Linked DNA regions of Homo sapiens: regions 2 and 3 are each reported to be linked to region 1. Evidence: microRNA targets listed by miRTarBase, many of them from high-throughput screens and not tested one by one. Region 1 holds a microRNA gene; each other region holds the end of a gene's coding sequence.
Evidence for each region. Region 1 holds the annotated microRNA hsa-miR-6515-5p (UUGGAGGGUGUGGAAGACAUC, at 2,737-2,757, shown strand). A microRNA usually pairs through its seed, bases 2 to 8, with sites in the 3' UTR of a target mRNA and lowers its output. Matches are read on the target gene's strand: a 7mer-m8 pairs with bases 2 to 8, a 7mer-A1 pairs with bases 2 to 7 and ends in A, and an 8mer does both.

Region 2: miRTarBase lists ATG13 as a target of hsa-miR-6515-5p. Seed matches in the 3' UTR shown: 7mer-A1 at 1,417-1,423.
Region 3: miRTarBase lists GPRIN3 as a target of hsa-miR-6515-5p. Seed matches in the 3' UTR shown: 7mer-A1 at 2,063-2,069.

What each region holds. Positions count from the first base shown.
Region 1 is chr19:12,937,750-12,942,444 of GRCh38, forward strand. It overlaps MIR6515 (microRNA 6515), which reads left to right and starts at 2,735; the gene lies at 2,735-2,791. It overlaps CALR (calreticulin), which reads left to right and starts at 860. Exons shown (of 9, transcript NM_004343.4): 1 at 860-1,021; 2 at 1,385-1,486; 3 at 1,679-1,882; 4 at 2,304-2,398; 5 at 2,494-2,703; 6 at 2,792-2,905; 7 at 2,995-3,138. The coding sequence starts at 931. RefSeq lists enhancers at 302-411, 482-531, 1,158-1,907, 1,202-1,251, 2,144-3,343 and 1 more and a cis regulatory region at 462-1,100.
Region 2 is chr11:46,671,848-46,675,847 of GRCh38, reverse strand. ATG13 (autophagy related 13) reads right to left here. Exons shown (of 19, transcript NM_001346311.2): 19 at 1,330-3,593. The coding sequence ends at 3,516. Among named protein-coding and RNA genes, the nearest start is that of ARHGAP1, 27 kb to the left of the region's middle.
Region 3 is chr4:89,244,504-89,248,503 of GRCh38, reverse strand. It overlaps GPRIN3 (GPRIN family member 3), which reads left to right. Exons shown (of 2, transcript NM_198281.3): 2 at 1-4,000. The coding sequence ends at 724. Among named protein-coding and RNA genes, the nearest start is that of GPRIN3, 61 kb to the left of the region's middle.

The DNA of each region.
Region 1 (4,695 bases):
AAGGGGCGGCTGCAATCTGGGTAATAACCCTATCCCCACTCCAGAAGTCACAGTCACATCGTTAAGCCTTCCTCCCCTCTTGTCCCAGGACAGCTTTAAAAACGTTAAAAGCATTTCTGCTGGGTAGCATCTGGCCAGGGTCGCCCCCTCTGTCTGCTCAGGAACGTCTGTCACTTCAGAGAGCTTAAGTGACTTGCCCCGGTCACACAGCAGCAGTCCGATAGGCTGCCAGGGCTCTAGGGGCAGAAGGAGGAGAGGGCTGGCATTCTTCCCACCGGCCCGCGTGACTGTAGCACCGGGGTGCAGCGAAGCCCCAAGGGCCCCAATCCGTGAGCTCTCTCCCATCCCAGGCAGGGGTGGGGGAGCAGCAGTGGGGTGCTGGTTCTCAAATGCAAGATAAGAGCTGGCTAAGAAAGCCTTGCCCAGCCCCTCCACCTAGAGGGAATGGGAGGGAGAGAAGCTGAGGGCAGGGTCCCGGTCCCGCGTGGAGACAGCTGCGCTCCCGCGGTTTCTTTAAACGCCCAGATGGGCAACGACGCGCGCGGACGAGGGCGGGGTTGGGTTCAGGTCTGGTCACATGACCTGGCCTGAGGTGCTCGCGGCCCCCACCCCACCAGTGGGCGTCCCCCCCACGCGTGGTCGACCATCATTGGTCGGTGGTGAGGCCAATAGAAATCGGCCATCTGGGAACCCAGCGTTCCGAGGCGCAGCCTAACATAGTGAACCGACGAAGGTCCAATGGAAAAAGACGGCCATGGGCATAGACCAATGACAAAGTGGCAGGGGCGGGCCCAAGGGCTGGGTCAGGTTGGTTTGAGAGGCGGGTGGGTATAAAAGTGCAAGGCGGGCGGCGGCGTCCGTCCGTACTGCAGAGCCGCTGCCGGAGGGTCGTTTTAAAGGGCCCGCGCGTTGCCGCCCCCTCGGCCCGCCATGCTGCTATCCGTGCCGCTGCTGCTCGGCCTCCTCGGCCTGGCCGTCGCCGAGCCTGCCGTCTACTTCAAGGAGCAGTTTCTGGACGGAGGTAACGCCTGGTCCCGCCTCGAGGCCGCCCCGACGACGCGGCCGGCCCCCGATCCTGGATCTGCGTTGTCGCCCGTAATTACCGTTTAGAGGTCCAACACGGTGGCCTCCCGGGACTAGAGCCGCGGGCGATTTCTCTTCTGCGTCCCTGGGGAGCGCGGAGGGCGTAGCGGCCTCCCGCGGCGGGAGTTAGGGTTAGCCCGAGGATCTCTGAAGGCACCCGACGTGTCAAACTAGAGGTTGGAATGGGGAGTGTCGGGGATCTCCTTTCCTGTCCCCAGCAGCTTGTGGCTCTCGGCAGATGTTTGGTGTGGGGGGGGATTAGCACAGCCGCTCTGACCTACCCCTCTAATCCCCCACTTAGACGGGTGGACTTCCCGCTGGATCGAATCCAAACACAAGTCAGATTTTGGCAAATTCGTTCTCAGTTCCGGCAAGTTCTACGGTGACGAGGAGAAAGATAAAGGTAAGAGCCTAGGAGTGGGTGCTCAGATCCGGGAGGACTTCCTGGCAGAAGTCCTTGTCTGTACACACACAGCCGGGACAGTCCCCTTGGAGGAGGACAGGTGGAGGAAGTGGGGGAGTCTTCTCTATTCTCTAAGTCGAGGGTCCTCGCGAGTCAAGGCCCAACGGTGACCTCACTACCGTCCCGTCTCAGGTTTGCAGACAAGCCAGGATGCACGCTTTTATGCTCTGTCGGCCAGTTTCGAGCCTTTCAGCAACAAAGGCCAGACGCTGGTGGTGCAGTTCACGGTGAAACATGAGCAGAACATCGACTGTGGGGGCGGCTATGTGAAGCTGTTTCCTAATAGTTTGGACCAGACAGACATGCACGGAGACTCAGAATACAACATCATGTTTGGTGAGGGCCTGCTTCCTGGTGCTGATCTCTGTCCCATTAGTTAGAGGGAGACCCAGACCCCATTGACTTTCTTAATAATGATTTTTTTTGGAAGGGGAGCTAAAAGAATAAGTCCCAGCAACAATTTATTGCATTATGATCGCAGATCTAGGCTGTTAATTTAATTTGCGTGTTTGTATATAGTTATTTCCCAATCTTACTAATGAGGATTTTGAGTTCTAGAGCACTGATTTTTTTTTTTTCTCCTTTAAACTTAAGGCTCCACCCACAGCCCATTCAGGACAGAATCAGGGTCTGAGTTTCTCTTCTCAGCCTTGACAGACCCGAGTTGAAGAACCAGGTCTTCCTTTTATAAAGAGGGGTGAGAGCCTCGAGATGATGGGTAGTCTCTGACTCTTAACTGGATCTGCTTCACACCTAGGTCCCGACATCTGTGGCCCTGGCACCAAGAAGGTTCATGTCATCTTCAACTACAAGGGCAAGAACGTGCTGATCAACAAGGACATCCGTTGCAAGGTGTGCCTGGGGGTGGTGGCAAATGGCTGTCATGGGGAGATTCAGAGGTCAGCCTCATTGGGGGGTGGCCCCCGCTCACCTTCTTCCTTCTTCAGGATGATGAGTTTACACACCTGTACACACTGATTGTGCGGCCAGACAACACCTATGAGGTGAAGATTGACAACAGCCAGGTGGAGTCCGGCTCCTTGGAAGACGATTGGGACTTCCTGCCACCCAAGAAGATAAAGGATCCTGATGCTTCAAAACCGGAAGACTGGGATGAGCGGGCCAAGATCGATGATCCCACAGACTCCAAGCCTGAGGTTGGTGTTTGGGCAGGGGCTCTGCTCTCCACATTGGAGGGTGTGGAAGACATCTGGGCCAACTCTGATCTCTTCATCTACCCCCCAGGACTGGGACAAGCCCGAGCATATCCCTGACCCTGATGCTAAGAAGCCCGAGGACTGGGATGAAGAGATGGACGGAGAGTGGGAACCCCCAGTGATTCAGAACCCTGAGTACAAGGTGAGTTTGGGGCTCTGAGCAGGGCTGGGGCTCACAGTGGGGAGTGCACCAACCTTACTCACCCTTCGGTTTCCTTCTCCCTTCTGCAGGGTGAGTGGAAGCCCCGGCAGATCGACAACCCAGATTACAAGGGCACTTGGATCCACCCAGAAATTGACAACCCCGAGTATTCTCCCGATCCCAGTATCTATGCCTATGATAACTTTGGCGTGCTGGGCCTGGACCTCTGGCAGGTGAGACTTGGAGGAAAAAGGAGGATCCCTGGGGTACCTCAAGTGCATAAGATCACCCAAGAGGAAAGGGACAGGGTAGGCACCCCAGGTGAGTCTGACTCAAAAATGGTACTTCTTGTAAACAGTACTTCCTGGTCTGTCCCTGTGAAGTCCTCACAGCAACCCCTTTAAGGTTATACTTGCTGTGCACCAAGTACTTCCCCAAGTACTTTTATGCAAATCAACTTCTTTACCCCCAAAGACCTAGAAGGTGGTCAGGTAACCCAGTTAGTTAGCTGGGGCTGGGCACAGTGGCTCACCCTTACAATCACGGTACTTTGGGAGGCTGAGACAGAGGATTGCTTGAGGCCAGGAGTTACACAACTCAACCTAGCTTGGCAACACAGCGAGGAGACCCTATCTCTACAAAAAAAATTTTTTTTTTTGAGACAGAGTTTCACTCTTGTTGCTGAGGCTGGAGTGCAATGGCACGATCTCAGCTCACTGCGCCCTCCGTCTCCTGGTTTCAAGCGATTCTCCTGCCTCAGCCTCCGGAGTAGCTGGGATTACAGGCATGTGCTACTATGGATGCCAGGCTAATTTTTTTTTTTTTTTTTTTTTTTGAGACCGTGCCTTGCTCTGTCGCCCAGGCTGGAGTGCAGTGGTGTGATCTCTGCTCACTGCAAGCTCCGCACGACCCCCCAGGTTCACTCCATTCTTCTGCCTCAGGGTCCCGAGTAACTGGGACTACAGGCACCCCCCACCATGCCTGGCTAATTTTTTTGTATTTTTTTTTTTAGTACAGACATGGTTTCACCGTGTTAGCCAGGATGGTCTCCATCTCCTGACCTCATGAACCACCCACCTTGGCCTCCCAAAGTGCTGGGATTACAGGCGTGAGCCACCTCACCCAGCCTTTTTGTAGAGACAGGGCTTCATGTTGCCCAGGTTGGTCTCGAACTCCTGGCCTCAGGTCATCTGCCCGCCTCGGCCTCCCAAAGTGCTGGGATTACAAGGGTTAGCCACCATGCCTAGCCTCTACAAAAACTTTAAAAATTGGCGAGATGTCATGCATACCTGTAGTCCCAACTACCAAGGAAGAAGGATGATCACTTGAGCCTGGGGCATCGAGGCTGCAGTGAGCCATGATTATGTCACTGCACTCCAGCCTCGGTGACAGAGTGAGACCCTCTCAAAAAAAGTTGGGACTTGGCCGGACACAGTGGCTCACACCTGTAATCCCAGCACTTTGGGAGGCCAAGGCGGGTGGATCACAAGGTCAGGAGATGGAGACCATCCTGGCTAACATGGTGAATGAAACCCCATCTCTAGTAAAAATACAAAAAATTTGCCAGGTGTGGTGGTGGGCGCCTGTAGTCCCAGCTACTCGGGAGGCTGAGGCAAAAGGATGACGTGAACCCGGGAGGCGGAGCTTGCAGTGAGCTGAGATCATGCCATTGCACTCCAGCCTGGGTGATAGCGAGACTCTGTCCCAAAAAAAAAAAAAAATGCTGGGACTGAATTTTTGTCTGTTTTGGTCACTGAAATACCTTCTGTGCCCAAGACAGTTCTGGCATG
Region 2 (4,000 bases), not on the chromosome of region 1:
CCTCCTTGCTTGTCCGGGCTGGGGGAGCAGGGCCAGAGCTGCAGGATCAGGCTGTGGTTACAGATGGTGATTACAAACATTGGGCCTCAGCCCCAAGAAGCAAGTCCCATTCCACAATGGTGGCCTTCCTCCAGGCACTGGGGGCCTCCTCTCTCTCTGGATCTGCTCAGCTAGAGCTGAGTGGCTGGAATAGAGAGGCAGTGACCCAGGGAAACAGGAGCGAGGAAACTGTTTACTTGGGTTGGGCTCCTGGCAGGGCCTCTGCTGAGTGACTCAAATGCCAATTTACCAAGGCCTTAACAACGATGGCCTCCAGGGGTAGAGTGTAGGGAGATGCTTTAAAGAGGTAGGACACCATTGCTGGGCATGGGGCAACTGAAAACTTTGTTATTGGGGGTTCCTGATTGAAGGGGGAACACCAGAACAGCCTTTTCGTCACTTCTGACTCAGGTATTGGGCAACTGTCCTGGCTGGCCACATGATCAGTGTCACCTGGTTTACTAATAATCAGGAGCTCCTGGCTCCAGGAATAGGCTGGATTTGGACTTTTCTAACCAGCCCTTTTAATCCTGGGCCTAGCTTCAGCCTGAAGGCGGGTGGGGAAGCAACCCAGACAGCAGCTGTCCAGTTCTGTCAGTTCTCTTTTGCCTCTAGAACCATCCCTACCTCCGGGATGTTGTCTCCACCAATCAGCTCCCTCCCCTAACTATGGTCACAAACTAGGAGAATTAGGAGGCGGGGCTGGCCCTGGCCGGGTTGAGAGGCCTGCAGCCCCAGGCCCCAGGAGCCAGACAGGACGCATACCCCGGGGCTCTTCTACTCTTCCTGGCTGCTCAAGCACCGCCAGTCAGATCAAGGCAGCTAACAAACTTGCATGGACCTTTAACTTCCTGCTACTTCTCTTCTGCTTGCTCAGCCACAAATCCCCCAGATGGCTTGGGGAGCCCTGCACTCCCTGCCTTGCACTGTTGTTTTTCCCTCCAGGGTGAGTTGTTATGTAAGAGCAATAAAGAGCTGATAACGGTGGCCTGCATTTTATGGAGATTTTACTATGGGTGTATTTTAAATGCATTCTCCAACTGAATATTCAAATTCAAGCCCCTGATAGGGGACCAGGGAAAGAGAAATACTAAGAAGTTTCCTGACCCAGGAAACCCCAGGGTATACAGCCCCTAAGAGGCCACACCCGACTCAAAACAGGCTTGCCCAGACACTTGAGGTCTTTCTGCGCTTCACAACGCACCACTCTCCCCTTTCCCAGACCTGCACTGGGGCAGGGGTGGGGAAGGGGTTACGAGGTCTTCAGACAACCTACAGGACAGGAGGCTGTAAAGTACAGAAAAAAATTTATTGGAAATCCCTTGAATACATTTTGAAGTGTAGCTCGGTATTTCCAAACAAAGTAGGTTGGAGAGGTTGGAGGAGGAGGAGGGACTCTGACACCTGGAGACAAACAGCTGGTCCCAGCCTGTCCCGGGGGTGCTGCAGGAGTCAGTCTAGGGCTCATTCCTTTCATGGCAGGTCTGAGGGGCAAGGGCTGGCCTTAACAGTTGCTTTACTTCTCCCAAGCTCAGCTCAAAGTCATGGCTGAGACTCTTCACAGATGGAGCCCTGGTGAAAGGCTGCTGCCACCTGTAGATGCCAAAGATTGCTGCCTCAGACAATGGCTAGGCCTTTCCATGCAAGGCCTTGGAAAGAGAGCAGTAGCTGAAATATGGGGGCATCAATAACTTACCAGGGGCCTTCCCCCTTCTCAAAGCTGGGGCCTTGGGGATAAACCTGAGCCTGGGTTCAGCAAGCCACGCATGTGCTCTGGGCCAAAGTCAGGAGGGCCAGTTGGCTGCTACTGCTTCTGCTAACACTTCTTGGTGGCAGCAGCAGCACGCAGAGCTCTGGTCCCCGCCAGAGCCTGCTCCAATCCTCAGAAGTCAGCCTTGTATGTGGGAACAGTGTCACATGCAGTATACTAACAAGCAGCTGAGAACCACCTGCTCCACTGAAGCACAGCTGCTGCCAGTGAATGCCCCAGGTGGGCCAGGAGGAATGGAGTAGACCTAGATCTCCTTGACCAGGACTACCAGCGAGGCTGGGAAAGGACAGATCATAGGTGGGTGAGGCTAGGCACTTGACTTATTCAAGTAACAATACCTGAAGGGTTAAGTCAATCATACGCCCAGCTTTGATTTCTCAACCAGAAGCCAATCCAGCTGGTAAACCCCAGGGCAGTGTAGAGAACCTGGGATTAGAGGGAGATGGTAGCTAGGCCCAAGCAGGAGGAAAAGCTCCACAGGACAGCCCCAGGGATCAGGAACAAGTACCCAGGCAGTTGGGGGACACACACAACATCCCCTAACCACTACATGTGGCCATCACATTTAGCACCCAGGACTTCCTGGGCTGCCAGAATGGAGTCAGTCACTCTGCAGAAACTGTGGGAGATGTAAGGCTCTCACCAGGAATACGCAACTATCCAAGGTAAAGCCTTTAGTCAGTTCCAGTGCAGCCACACTGGGAGGTGACTTTGCCCCCGGCCAGCCCTCTTCTTGGATCTCGCTGTCTGTATGGTGGGAAGATCCTCAAAGCAGCAGCCCGGATTCTCAATAACCTCCGGAGGAGGAGGTCTCCGTCCCAGGAAGAGCCCTCCGCCTTCTCCAAGTGAAAAACAACTCACCTCAAACATATTTCCTCTATAAAATATCTGGTTTCTCTGAAAGTAATAAATATTTACCATGTTCTATAACCAAGGAGCAGCAACGGGGGGACAAGAGGAAGAGAACTTTGCTGTGACTCCAAGTGACAAAATCCTAGAGATTCAGGGTGCCATTTTTATTTCCCATGGAGCTGAGGACCTGAGCACAGGCAGCCACCAGGGCTGCTCAGACCCTCCCGACCTTCAGGGGTGGGAGTGGTTTTGGAGTTCTGATCTTGGGTAGGCAGGCCTGTCATATTGCCAGAAATACAGGCATAGAGGCAAGAGAGAGAAGAAGAGGAGAAGAAGATAGCAGGAAGTAAAGGGGACAATGAAGAGAGCTAAGGGACTCCTTCCTTCTTCCTCCTGGCACTGTCTCCTTCCTCTTTCTGCGACTCCACACCAATCTCTTGGCCACCAGCTGGAATGTCAAACAGTGGATGGTGACAGCAGGCAGGGAAGGGGCCAGCTGCAAGGCAGGCCCAGGCAGGAGGCCGGCAGCAGGAGGAACAGGATGACACCCTTGGGAAGCAGTTGGTGATGGGCAGGGCACACAGATGGCCCTGCTGAGGGCTTTTTCGTACGAAGGTTCTTCCCATCTCCAAGGCCAGCACGTGAGTCTTCTCCAACTGGGCACTGGGCTTGACTGCCGCCACGGAGTCTCCAGGAGGTCCAAGAGTAGGGACTTCTGGGTCCCCATGGGAGAAGCCAGCCTCCCTTCCACCTGGCTCAGAGCAGGATGAGGGGTGGGAGCAGCTGATGCATGGGAGGCTGCTTATGCCCTGGGGCCACAAAAAGGGGGTGCTGCTGGGACTCAAGGATACTTTTACTGCAGGGTTTCCACAAAGGCATCAAACTCGCGGACATTCTTCTCATGCACAGCCAGCTTCTCTGGTAATGAGTCCTGTACCGGAAAGAGAGGGAAGAGCCGTTTATTCAGGCAGGGCCTTGAGGAGGCAGCCAGCCCAGTCCCGAAGAGGGGAGGCAGCAAGCAAGACGAAGCTCAGCCCTAGCTGGGCCGAGCAAGTGGGAGAACGCAGGGCAGCTGCGTAGGCACAGGGTAGGGAGGGGTATATGCATCAGGGCTTTGCAGGGGCTGGAGGATTAATGGAACGGCCTTGGGAGTCCAAGTGGGCCACACACTTAACAAAAGAGAAAAGGACCACAAGAGCAAGATGATTCAGAAATTAAACATGAAATATCCCTGGCACAGATCTGACTGACACTAGAATAAAATACCAAGTGTACAGCTCTACAAATTAAACAGTTTACAAAAGATTTCTTCACACCCTTTGCTGGGCATCGGGACCC
Region 3 (4,000 bases), not on the chromosome of region 1:
GGAAAAGAAGCCTGCATCTCCTCAGGTAGTAAAAGAAAAAGAGTCTACTGGCACTGATACCTCGGATGCCAAAACCCTACTGCTCAATCCTAAATCCCAAGAAAGTGGAGGCACAGAATCAGCTGCTAATCCTACACCCTCCCCAATTAGGAAGAACCAGGAGAGCACCTTAGAAGAAAACAGACAGACCAAGACAGCCACCAGCCTGAGCCTGCCATCTGATCCCATGGGTGACTCCAGCCCAGGTTCTGGCAAGAAGACCCCATCTCGCTCCGTCAAAGCCAGCCCACGCAGGCCCAGCCGCGTCAGCGAGTTCCTCAAGGAGCAAAAGTTAAATGTGACAGCAGCTGCTGCTCAGGTAGGACTCACTCCAGGAGATAAGAAAAAGCAGCTTGGCGCAGACTCCAAGCTCCAGCTGAAACAGTCCAAGCGTGTCAGGGACGTCGTGTGGGATGAGCAGGGAATGACCTGGGAAGTGTATGGTGCATCCTTGGACGCAGAGTCCCTGGGAATCGCGATCCAGAACCATTTGCAAAGACAAATCAGGGAACATGAGAAATTAATCAAAACTCAAAATAGCCAGACCCGGAGATCCATTTCCTCAGATACTTCTTCAAATAAGAAGCTCAGAGGAAGGCAGCACAGTGTTTTCCAGTCCATGCTGCAGAACTTCCGACGCCCCAACTGCTGCGTCCGTCCTGCCCCGTCTTCTGTGTTAGATTGAAAGGGAGTATTTATGGGAGTTTGTGTATAAATTTACGGTATTCACATGCGTCCCTCTATGTCAAAGCTTGCTTAGTTTTTTGCTGCAAGACTAGGAAGAAAAAGCAAGTATTCACTATAGGAAATTGCTATTAAAAATTGTTAGATCCTTTGACCTGGAGCTCTATAAACAAAAATGTCATTTCAATTTGAAAGAAGGAACAAGAAAAGAGAAACAAGCTTCACTGAAGGTTTGCAACCTTAACAAATTGAAAATAATACTCACTGGGTTTTTAAAAATATGATGTTGTTCATAGAAATAGCATTATTGTATCATTATACATGTATTATTTTGTATAACTGCCTCAATTTATCACACAGTAGTAGTTCCATTAAAATCCCTGCTTCATATTGAAAGTAGCAAAAACACTATTGGCGAAAACATTGTTATAATTTCTAGTCTTATTGCAGTAAGAATGCTGTAACCACACAAATTATAAATAGGTGATAAGAACCATAATGAAAAAAATGAGAACATATTTGATTCATTCCTAGGCCAGATAACATTAAATAAAAACAGTTAAATGTGTAAAATATGAAATATGAATTAATGTTTATAAACATCTGCAGACAACTCTTTTTATAAACCTTCTTATTGCTGTTAATAAATATAAGAAAGTTATATTAGGAACATTAGCTAAGCTTTTGACTATGAAAACTGCCTACATTAAACATGGATTTATATAGACCCATTTTCCTGCACTGAAGGCAAGGCGCATCTCTGTGATTCTGACCAGACATATTCATATTTTCTTACCCTAGAGGAAGTACATGGGACTGAATTCTTGAAAAGAGCCATCAAATTAGGGATAATACTAAATTGATACTGTGCAGGTGTTCTCCAGTGATATTCTACTGAGAATGCTAAGGTTCTGGTCAGGAACTATAAATAGCAGATTACCAAACACTGCTTTTTCTGTGATGATAAAAGCCTCATAAGTAACAAAAACAATGTTTAATTTAGACTCCTGTAAACAGGATGCAATTAGTGATTTTTTTTAATTGGGTTCAGTAACTTCCAGTAACAAATGTAGTCAACACCAAATTAGAATGTGAGCTTCCTTACAATTTTTGTACATAGACTACTATCATCTAATTGCTTAAATATATATGCTGGAGTAAAAAGGTAACTTCTGCAAACTTATTGATTTTAAGAGAAATACCCATAATATCCTTCAAACCCAATGAAAGAAGAGGCCTTTACGAAAACATGGCTTGTGATTTGGGTGGATTATACTTCCTGGGACCTTGGCCCTCCCGTGTCTCCAGAAGAGACGTGTGTCCCGAGACACATGAGTATCCTCCAAGGCACTGGCCTGGATGAGCAGCATCGCCTTGAGAATTGGGGTAGTGTGGAAAGGAAGAATGAACAACGGCCCTGGGAAGCCTTCCCTTCCTGCAGATATTGTTGGGGGAGTGCTGGTCTCCATTTTGCGTTTAGAAAACCAGACTTAGATGCTGGAGGGGCACCGGTTGTCTTCTTTGAACTCATTCCCCGTAATGAGCTAGAAAAGAGTACCTAACCATAGGTATTCTCTCTAGAGACTCATGTGTCCCGTGGGTACAGTCAATTCACAGTATCTGTTCTGGCTTTTTTCACTTTAATTCTGTTCTGCACATTCTGAACATATGCAGGAAAAAAAATCATTCCTGAACTTAGCACAAGCTACACTCGACACAACCTAAATTAGTAAAAAGCCTTTGATTTATTTTGAAGCAATTTAACTGTAGACAAAGCTTGCATATATGGAACAGTATTCTCAGAGCCTGAGAGTTGTTACAGTTGTTCTATTTGGAAATTAGAAGGAATTTTTTAATAAGGCACATTTTTCAGTTTCTTACCCATTGGTGTCTATTAAGAATACTATGTAATGTTGAAATTTCCATCAAATTACCAAGCAAATTACTATTAATGATTAGAGATTTAGCCTAACACTCTCTCTTTGGGCCTTAAATACCCATTTGTAGTTGTGTTCGTGTCACTTCTGTCTCAGATGCCTCTGCCAGGACATAATCTCTCTAACTCTTGCTAGCTGGCTTCTCCCTCCCACATGGGCATACATGCTGTGTATACACAGAGTACAGCCTGTGTACACAGTAGCAGCTGTCAACAGGGCCTACTCCAGATGGGTGGCCCCAGGTAATCCTCTGCTGTAAAGTGGCTAGAACAGGCTGTCCCTGCATTAAAATAGGTGAGAATAAGGAATTTCGCCTCTGATAATAATATTTATTTTCATGACTTTAGAGTAACCACATGATTTGTAAACAGTTAAATGAAGCAGAGGCCTGAGAGAGTTGTTGGCATTTGTCTCACATTAAATACATTAAAATTGCTAGATTTGCTATTGTGGTTATGTCTATCAAAACTTTAAGAAAATTTGTTTAATGTACTGAGTTTAACTGATTTTCTTTGGTGCTGGGACCAAATTCTTCACTTCTACAACACTCAAGAGATTGTCACAAAATATTACAAAAATATTGTTTGTTTTGTGGCTCATTAAACCCTATATAACTAACAGCTTTTAAGGACATTAACAGAAATATATCTTCAGATGGATAAATAAGATAGGGACCTATTCAAGACAGCAGCATTTTTGTATTGTGATACCTCCCCTAAGTTACTCTCACAATAAAACCTTATTTGAGAATTTTCCTTCACTTCAATCTGTGACATAGCATTAGGCATTTAGTATACCTTATTTGTGAAACCTAAGGTTCATTCAACAGATGAAGCTGCAAAACAGTTTTCTTGGTAGACTCTTGGAACTTGCTCAGTTTTTTCCTTACTTTACCTGCATGACACACATTGGGTTGAAAGTTGTTTGGTTTTACCCTTCATTTCTCTTAGATATGATTTGGTTCTTTTTCATGCATTATATTTTTGAAATATATGGAGGAAATATTTTATTGAATCAAGAAATAGAAAATATTCCTTAAACCAGTAGTAAAAAGGTGAGTTAGAACTCCATGTCTGGAAGACAATTCAACATTTAAAATATTAAGATGCTATACCACTTAACAAGTGAATACTAAAATTTTTAATTTAAAGATTGATTGTTCTGTTTTTATGACCATGAGAAAAATGTGACAGCTTCAGCTGTCATATGTTTATCTTGAATGCTTTTCTAATTATGTATTTCTGGATTATTGACTTTGAATGCCACAGACCAACTACTTTACATAGAGTAAAATATTGATTAACCTTTGTGCTTTGGGTCACTGGCAAAAGTTGAACATC